2 linked regions of the Homo sapiens genome follow. The protein of the gene in region 1 purifies or fractionates together with the protein of each later gene. This does not show direct contact. Each region holds a gene or a part of one and is shown on either strand. Other genes may lie near its edges.

Evidence for each region. Proteins that work in one complex are often made in the same cells at the same time.
Region 2: the proteins of SNAP23 (region 1) and SCAMP1 purify together in Homo sapiens (affinity purification with western blotting, with the first as the bait; one study listed by BioGRID). This does not show direct contact.

Annotation. Positions count from the first base shown.
Region 1 is NC_000015.10:42,516,058-42,519,873, forward strand, and holds part of SNAP23 (synaptosomal-associated protein 23), read left to right. Parts: intron 1-3,816. UniProt on the Homo sapiens protein: Essential component of the high affinity receptor for the general membrane fusion machinery and an important regulator of transport vesicle docking and fusion.
Region 2 is NC_000005.10:78,412,595-78,416,410, forward strand, and holds part of SCAMP1 (secretory carrier-associated membrane protein 1), read left to right. Parts: intron 1-2,925; coding exon 2,926-3,024; intron 3,025-3,816. UniProt on the Homo sapiens protein: Functions in post-Golgi recycling pathways. Acts as a recycling carrier to the cell surface.

The DNA of each region.
Region 1 (3,816 bases):
AGGTAGTAGAGGAACTTGAATGCCAAACTAAGGAGTTGACAGATTGGAGTGGAGTATAAAAAGAAACGACAGTATCTGGAGATTGAATGACTGTACTCACTGCTGAAAGTTTTGTTTTGTTTTTTTTCTGAGACAGGGTCTCTGTTACTGAGGCTGGAATGCAGTGGCGTGATCACAGCTCACTGCAGCCTCTCTTTCCTGGGCACAAGAGATCCTCCCACCTTGGCCTCCCAAAGTGCTAGGATTACAGGCATGAGCCACTGCACACAGCCAAAGTATCCTTTTTTTTTTGAGACGGAGTCTCACTCTGTTACCAGGCTGGAATGCAGTGGCGCAGTCTCAGCTCACTGCAACCTCCGTCTCCTGGGTTCAAGTGATTTCTCCTGCCTCAGCCTCCCGAGTAGCTGGGACTACAGGCGCATGCCACCACACCCAGCTAATTTTTGTATTTTTAGTAGAGACGGGGTTTCACTATGTTGGCCAGGATGGTCTTGATCTCTTGACCTCATGATCCGCCCGCCTTAACCTCCTCAAGTGCTGGGATTACAGGTGTGAGCCACCACACCCGGCCTCAATGTATTCATTTTTAAAGAGGTTCTTAGACATTAATATTTCATCCAGTTCTCAGCTGGTCTTGTAAACCAACAGCGGTTATATTTTTATATTTTCAGTAAGTGTTTTTATGAAACAACATTTTTATGCCATTTCTGTTATAGAAAGTAGAGATTAATTGCTTGTCAGTCAACTTTAGTGTTTGTTTTGGCCATGAGGAAAGGTTTGACAGTGTTCTTCCTAGTCTTATCCATTGGCTTCCTATTCTAACACAAGTCTGTTGACCTGTTTACACCTTGGTTGACCAACTGAAAGTTCTGTATTTTTTGAGACGGAGTCTCGCTCTGTCACCCAGGCTGGAGTGCAGTGGTGTGATCTCGGCTCACTGCAACTTCCACCTCACGGGTTCAAGTGATTCTCCTGCCTCAGCCTCCCAAGTAGCTGGGATTACAAATATGTGCCACCATACTCAGCTAATTTTTATATTTTTAGTAGAGACAGGGTTTCGCCGTGTTGGCCAGGCTGGTCTCAAACTCCTAACCTCAGGTGATCTGCCCGCCTCTGCCTCCCAAAGTGCGGGGATTACATGCGTGAGCCACTGCTCCCGGCCAAAAGTTCATATTTTAATAACTATGACTTGTCAATCAGAGTTTAGCAGATTACTTTAAGCAAACAAGTTAAAATGTACAGATTATTTGATACAAACTCTTAGCTATGTTTTACAAACATAATTGTACCTTTCTCTTGTGTTCCATGTACCTTCTTGGAAGAGTACAGAAGAGAGGAAGTAGATGAATTTTCTTGAGATCAGATGTTAGGAGAACAAGGAGAAAGAAGTCTCCCCTAAAATCTTAGAGGAAGATCAGCTCTAAGTCACGTGTTGATAAATAGGAAGAGCACTGAATTAGACCTAAGATGGTCTAATATCATAGAAAGTGGGAAATGCAGCTACAGAGTATTAATTTTATGTCTCTTTGTGTATCCCAGCCAAGCATAGGCAAGCTTTTCTTGAAGACTGGTGGGAAACAAGGTAGGGTATGGTCCTGAATCAGCATTCTTCAGCCTCTAACCTCAGTAGAACCCTTTCTCAGTGGATCAAGAGAAGGCATTACTTTTTTAGAGATGGCCTCTCCCTCTGTCTCCCGGGCTTGAATGCAGTGGTGCCACCATAGCTCACTGTAGCCTCAAACATCTGGGCTCAAGCAATCCACCCACATCAGCCTCCCAAGTAGCTAGGATTACAGGTGTGTGCCACCATGCCCAGCTAATTTTTGAAATTTTTTGTAGAGACAGGGGTCTTGCTATGTTGCCCAGGCTTGTATCAAACTCCTGGCCTCAAGAAATCCTCCCACTTCAGCCTCCCAAAGCACTGGGATTACAGGCTTAAGCCACTGCACCCAACTGGCACTTCTTTCTTTTTTTTTTTCTGGCACTTCTTGAGAGATGGAATCAAGGGGCTGCTGTAACAAAACAGTTCCCTTAAGAGAAGAAAGTATTATCTCAGTTAAAGATGTCTGATTGTAATTGTCTTTCTTCCACCTATTTCTTTCTTACACCATTGAGACCTTGGCCAGTATGATATCTCTTATCCTCAGCTCTGTTCCTATCATTCTTGCCTGTGTCTTGATCTTTCTAATCTGCTAGTCTGTGTTTCAGTTAGGCTCGTCACATGAATAACCATAACATGAGCTTCTTAAAGGTAGACATGAGATCTTAGTCCTATGTGTAAGGCCTAGTCTTCATACCAGCAGTAGCAGTAACAACCCAGGTCAGGTCCAGAGTTCCTTATTTGCCATTTGGAAATACTTTTTCTTTTCTTTCTCTTTTTTTTTTTTTTTTTTCTCGAGACAGGGTCTCGCTCTGTTACCCAGGCTGGAGTGCAGTGGCAGTCATGGCTCACTGCAGCCTCAACCTATCCTCCAGCGTCAGCCTCCTGAGTAGCTGGGATTACAGGCACATGCCACCACACCCAGCTAATTTTGTATCTTTTGTAGAGACAAGGTTTCACCATGTTGGCCAGGCTGGTCTTGAACCCTTGGGCTCAGGCAGTCTACCCACCTTGGCCTCCAGAAGTGCTGGGATTGCAGGCATGAGCCATTAAGCCCTGCTGGCCATTCAGAAATCTAAAAAACTCCTAAAGTTTTGTTTTATTTTTGCTGTAATGGTGCCACAACTCATTAGGGTATAAAATGTAACCTGAACTGAAGCTATGTTTAGTCTTTATTACTTGCTGTAGATATTAATTGGTTTCACTACAGAAATACTCTTTTTGAGTCAGGGTCTCACTCTGTCACCCAGGTTGGAGTACAGTGGTATGATCTTGGCTCACTGCAGCCTCGACCTCCTAGGTTCAAGTGATCCCCCCACCTCAGCCTCATGAGTAGCTGGGACTACAGGTGCATGTCACCATGCCTGGTTTGTTTTTAAAAACTTTTGTTTCTTCTTCTTTTTTTTTTTTTTTTTGAGACGGAGTCTCACTCTGTTGCCCAGGCTAGAGTGCAGTGATGCAGTCTCAGTTCACTGCAACCTCTGCCTCCTAGGTTCAACCGATTCTCCTGCCTCAGCCTCCCAAATAGCTGGGATTACTGGTGCCTGCCACCACGCCCAGCTAATTTTTGTATTTTTAGTAGAGATGGGGGTTCACCATGTTGGCCAGGCTGGTCTTGAACTCCTGACCTCAGGTGATCCGCCTGCCTCGGCCTCCCAAAGTGCTGGGATTACAAGCATGAGCCACCATGCCTGACCCTGTTTCTTTTCTTTTCTTTTTCTTTTTTTTTTTTGAGACAGAGTTTTACGTTGTCACCCAGACTGGAGTGCAGTGGTACAATCTCGGCTCACTGCAACCTTCGCTTCCTGGGTTCAATCGATTCTCATGCCTCAACCACCCAAGTAGCTGGGATTAGAGGCATGCACCAACACCTTGCTAACTAATGTATTTTTAGTAGAGACGGGGTTTTGCCATGTTGGCCAGGATGGTCTTGAACTCCTGACCTCAAGTGATCCACCCACCTCGGCCTCCCAACGTGCTGGGGTTACAGGCATGAGCCACCGTACCTGGACTTTAAAAAGTTTTTGTAGAGATGAGTTCTCACTATGTTGCTCAGGCTGGTCTCAAACTCCTAAGCTCAAGCAATCCTCCCACATTGGCCTCCCAAAGTGCTGGTATTACAGAAATGAGCCACCACACGCAACGTCACTACAGAAATATTAATGTATTTAATTATGTGGTACTGTCCAAAACATCTTGCCCCCAATGGATTGGGG
Region 2 (3,816 bases), on another chromosome or scaffold:
GTCAGAGTTTGTTTTTCTATCTCATGGTTTTGAAATGATATATGATTGTTTTTGCACTTCTTGATTACTAGTGCTGTTACACCTCTTTTCACATGTTTATTGACCTCTTTCTATTGCTTGTTCAGATCTTTTGCTAGTTTTTCGATTAGTTTGTATTTTCATGGATTTGTAACAATTCTTTATATATTCTGGGTAGCAATTTTCTGTTATATGCATTACAACTATCTTTTCCTAGTCCATGATTTGACTTTTTACTTTTTGTAAATTTCAGTGTAATTAAATTCGTCAATTTTGTGTGGTGTGTGTTTTCCATTCTTAATTTGACAGATACTTACTGAGCATCTACTGTTTCAGGGACTATTTTGGGTACTTGGGATAGGTCATAAACAAAATACACAGTATTTCTAGAGTTCATATTCTAGAAGCTCAAGAAATATTCATAAAAATATTCACATGTATTTTTCCCTGAAAGTGTTTAAGTTTTGCTTTTTCAGTTTTAGATCATGAATTTACCTCGAATTAATCTTTGTATATGATGCGAAGTAAGAAATGTTTTTTTTTCCTATATGAGTAACCAGTTATCCAGGCACCGTTTATTGATTAACACATTGTTTCTTCACTGTTTTGTAGTGACACCTCTGTTAGATATCAAGTTTCTGCATTTGTGTGGGTTTGTTTCTGTGTCTGTTTTGTTTATTGGTACACTTCTCTGTCCTTGCATCTGTATTACACTCTTAATTACTGTGGTTCTATAATAAGCCTTGATATCATAGGTCTTCCTACTTTGTTTTTCTTCAAAATGGTTTGACCTGTTTTTAGTTCCTGCCTTTTTTTTTTTTTTGAGATAGACTCTCACTCTGTAGCCCAAGTTGGAGTGCAGTGGCATAATCTGGGCTCACTGCAACCTCTGCCTCCCAGGCTCAAGCGATTCTCATGCCTCAGCCTCTCCAGTAGCTGGGACTACAGGTGCACACCACCATGCCTGTCTAATTTTTTGTATTTTAGTAGAGACGAGGTTTCACCATGTTGCCCAGGGTGGTCTCGAACTCCTGAGCTCAGGCGATCTGCCCACCTTGGCCTCCCAAAGTGCTGGGATTACAAGTGTGAGCCTCTGCACCCAGCCGGTTCTTGCCTTTTGTATATGCATTTTAGAATCAGCTGAACTACAGTTATATCTTTGGTTATGCGTGGCTTCCTTTTCAGGGCTGCTGTTAGCTGTGTCAGAGTAAAATCCTGCTATATATTGGTGGTGTCTTCTGGTTTTAATAGTTCTTAAGATCCTTGAACGTCCTTGTGCAGCTTCTTTCTTTTTTATATTTTTCTTATTTATGACCTCCCCCTTCCCTCCCTCTTCTCTTTCTTTCCTTTCTTCTTTTCTTTTCTGTTACTGTTTTTGCTTCTATTGTTCTTTTCATGTTCCCATCCTTGTTTTTTGTTTTTTTCTTATGGTCATTCTAAAGAGTACTTTAAAAATATATTTTTATTAAAGTAGTATATGGTGCATGTGTCGAGGGAAGCAAATAATACAGAGGCATATAAAACAACAGGTGCAAGTCCGTCTGATATCAGGTGGCCGAGACTTCCCAGATATTTTATGGGGGCATGTATAAATCTGTGTCTGTTGAAAAAAAGGTCATATACAGACTGTTCTGTAGCTTGCTTTATTTTTTAATTTAATTTTTATTTTATTATTATTATTATTTTTTGAGATGGAGTCTTGCTCTGTCTCCCAGGCTGGAGTGCAGTGGTGCGATCTTAGCTCACTGCAACCTCCGCCTCCCGGGTTCAAGCGATTCTTCTGCCTCAGCCTCCCAAGTAGCTGGGACTGCAGGCGCCCGCCGCCACACCTGGCTAATTTTTGTATTTTTAGGAGAGATGGGGTTTCACCATATTGGCCAGGCTGGTCTCGAACTCCTGACTTTGTGATCCACTTGCCTCGGCCTCCCAAAGTACTGGGATCACAAGCATAGGACACTGCGCCCGGCCAGCTTGCTTTATTTTATTTAGTATTTTAAAAGACATTCTTCTATCGCTAATTTATTCTCATGGCTGCATTGTATGTATATACAGTAATTTAACCAATCCCCCATTGATGGACTTGTAGATGTCTACTTCCTGATCTTGCAGCTTTCAGACACTACTGATCCTCACTGGCAAAGTGGAAGTTGGGTAATTTATTTTCTCTCTCCTTACGCCTTCCCTTTTACTCTTTTAAATTTAGTGGGGTTCTACCAAGAACTTTCCTGTATACTCTTCAGAGCACTGGCATGTAGCTTTCTCAAGAGGGAAGAGTTGGCAGTAAACCTTGGTGTAGTTCTTTTGTCTGGTTCTATCTGTATTTTACTATTAAACTCAAAAGTTCTTTTTTTTTTTTTTTGAGATGGAGTCTTGCTCTGTTGCCCAGGCTGGAGTGCAGTGGTACAGTCTTGGCTCACTGCAGCCTCCACCTCCCCGGTTCAAGTGATTCTCCTGCCTCAGCCTCCCAAGTAGCTGGGATTACAGGTGCCCGCCACCACACCCGGCTAATTTTTGTATTTTTAGTAGAGACGGGGTTTCACCATATTGGCCAGGCTGGTCTTGAACTCCTGACTTAGGTGATCTACACGCCTTGGCCTCCCAAAGTGCTGGGATTACAGGCATGAGCCACCATGCCTGGCCTCTATTAACATACGGTATCCTGGAGGAGAGTGTTTGTCATATAGTGTTATAAGTAGCAGTCTGATTGTAGAGTTGAAAAATGAATGAGTTGGAGAAAATGGAGATGGAGAATTTAAGCAGCTCTTTGCCACACACTTGACTATGAGAGAGCAGGGAATGAAGAGATGCAGATTTTGGGATTTTTCATTTTATTGGTGTTATACTTTTTGAAAGAAGTTAAAGTTGGATCTCTGTGTTACATAATTTTCCTTCTCTTAATCCTCCTAGCCTCCACCAGGCGGTGTGAAGATGCCTAATGTACCCAATACACAACCAGCAATAATGAAACCAACAGAGGAACATCCAGCTTATACACAGATTGCAAAGGTTAGTTCATGTTAGTTGTATAAATTCATATTGGCCATTATAATATCAATAACATTTGCTTTCAGAGCAAAATAAATCTTTATATGGTTACATTTCTGTTGCTTAATTTTTAACTCACTTTCAAGTCTGGATTTGCTGTCTTGTCACCCTTCAAATACTCATTCCTCTTTTTGTCAGCTTATACCATTTGCTTTATTCCATTATTAGGAATTATTGAATTTATGTATCATCTCAGTGGATAAATTTTTATTGCCTTTGGTCCCACTTTTTAATGCACACTACCATTAAGGTAAAAATGATGGAATAATAGATATTATTGGGAGAGCGTTGCAATGGTAAAATAACAGTGTTAGGAGGTAGAAGATGGCAAAAATCTGAGAAGAAAGGAGATTAATAAGATGCCTGATAGCATGTAAGGGCAAATTGAGTTATAAAGAATTTCTTAATCACATCTTTTGACCTCATTCTCCTATAACATTTAAGATATTAGAAAATATTCTTGCATTGGTGGCCTTATATATCATTTAATCTGATTAATAGGAGCCAATTCAGTTGCCCTTTTTTCTATTGTTCATTTTCCTCAACTGTTCCCATTGCCTCTGTTCTTCACTCATTTAGGCATAGAGGTCATCTTAATTTCATTTTCCAGATTACCTAAAGATTGTGACTACTTTTACTAAGAGAAGTTTTCCTCTCCTAATGGACCCAACATTCCCACTGAGAGTTTCTGGAACCCAAAGACCAAATGGACCAAATATCCTCATAATATTTTCTGTAACTATGATCTTCAGT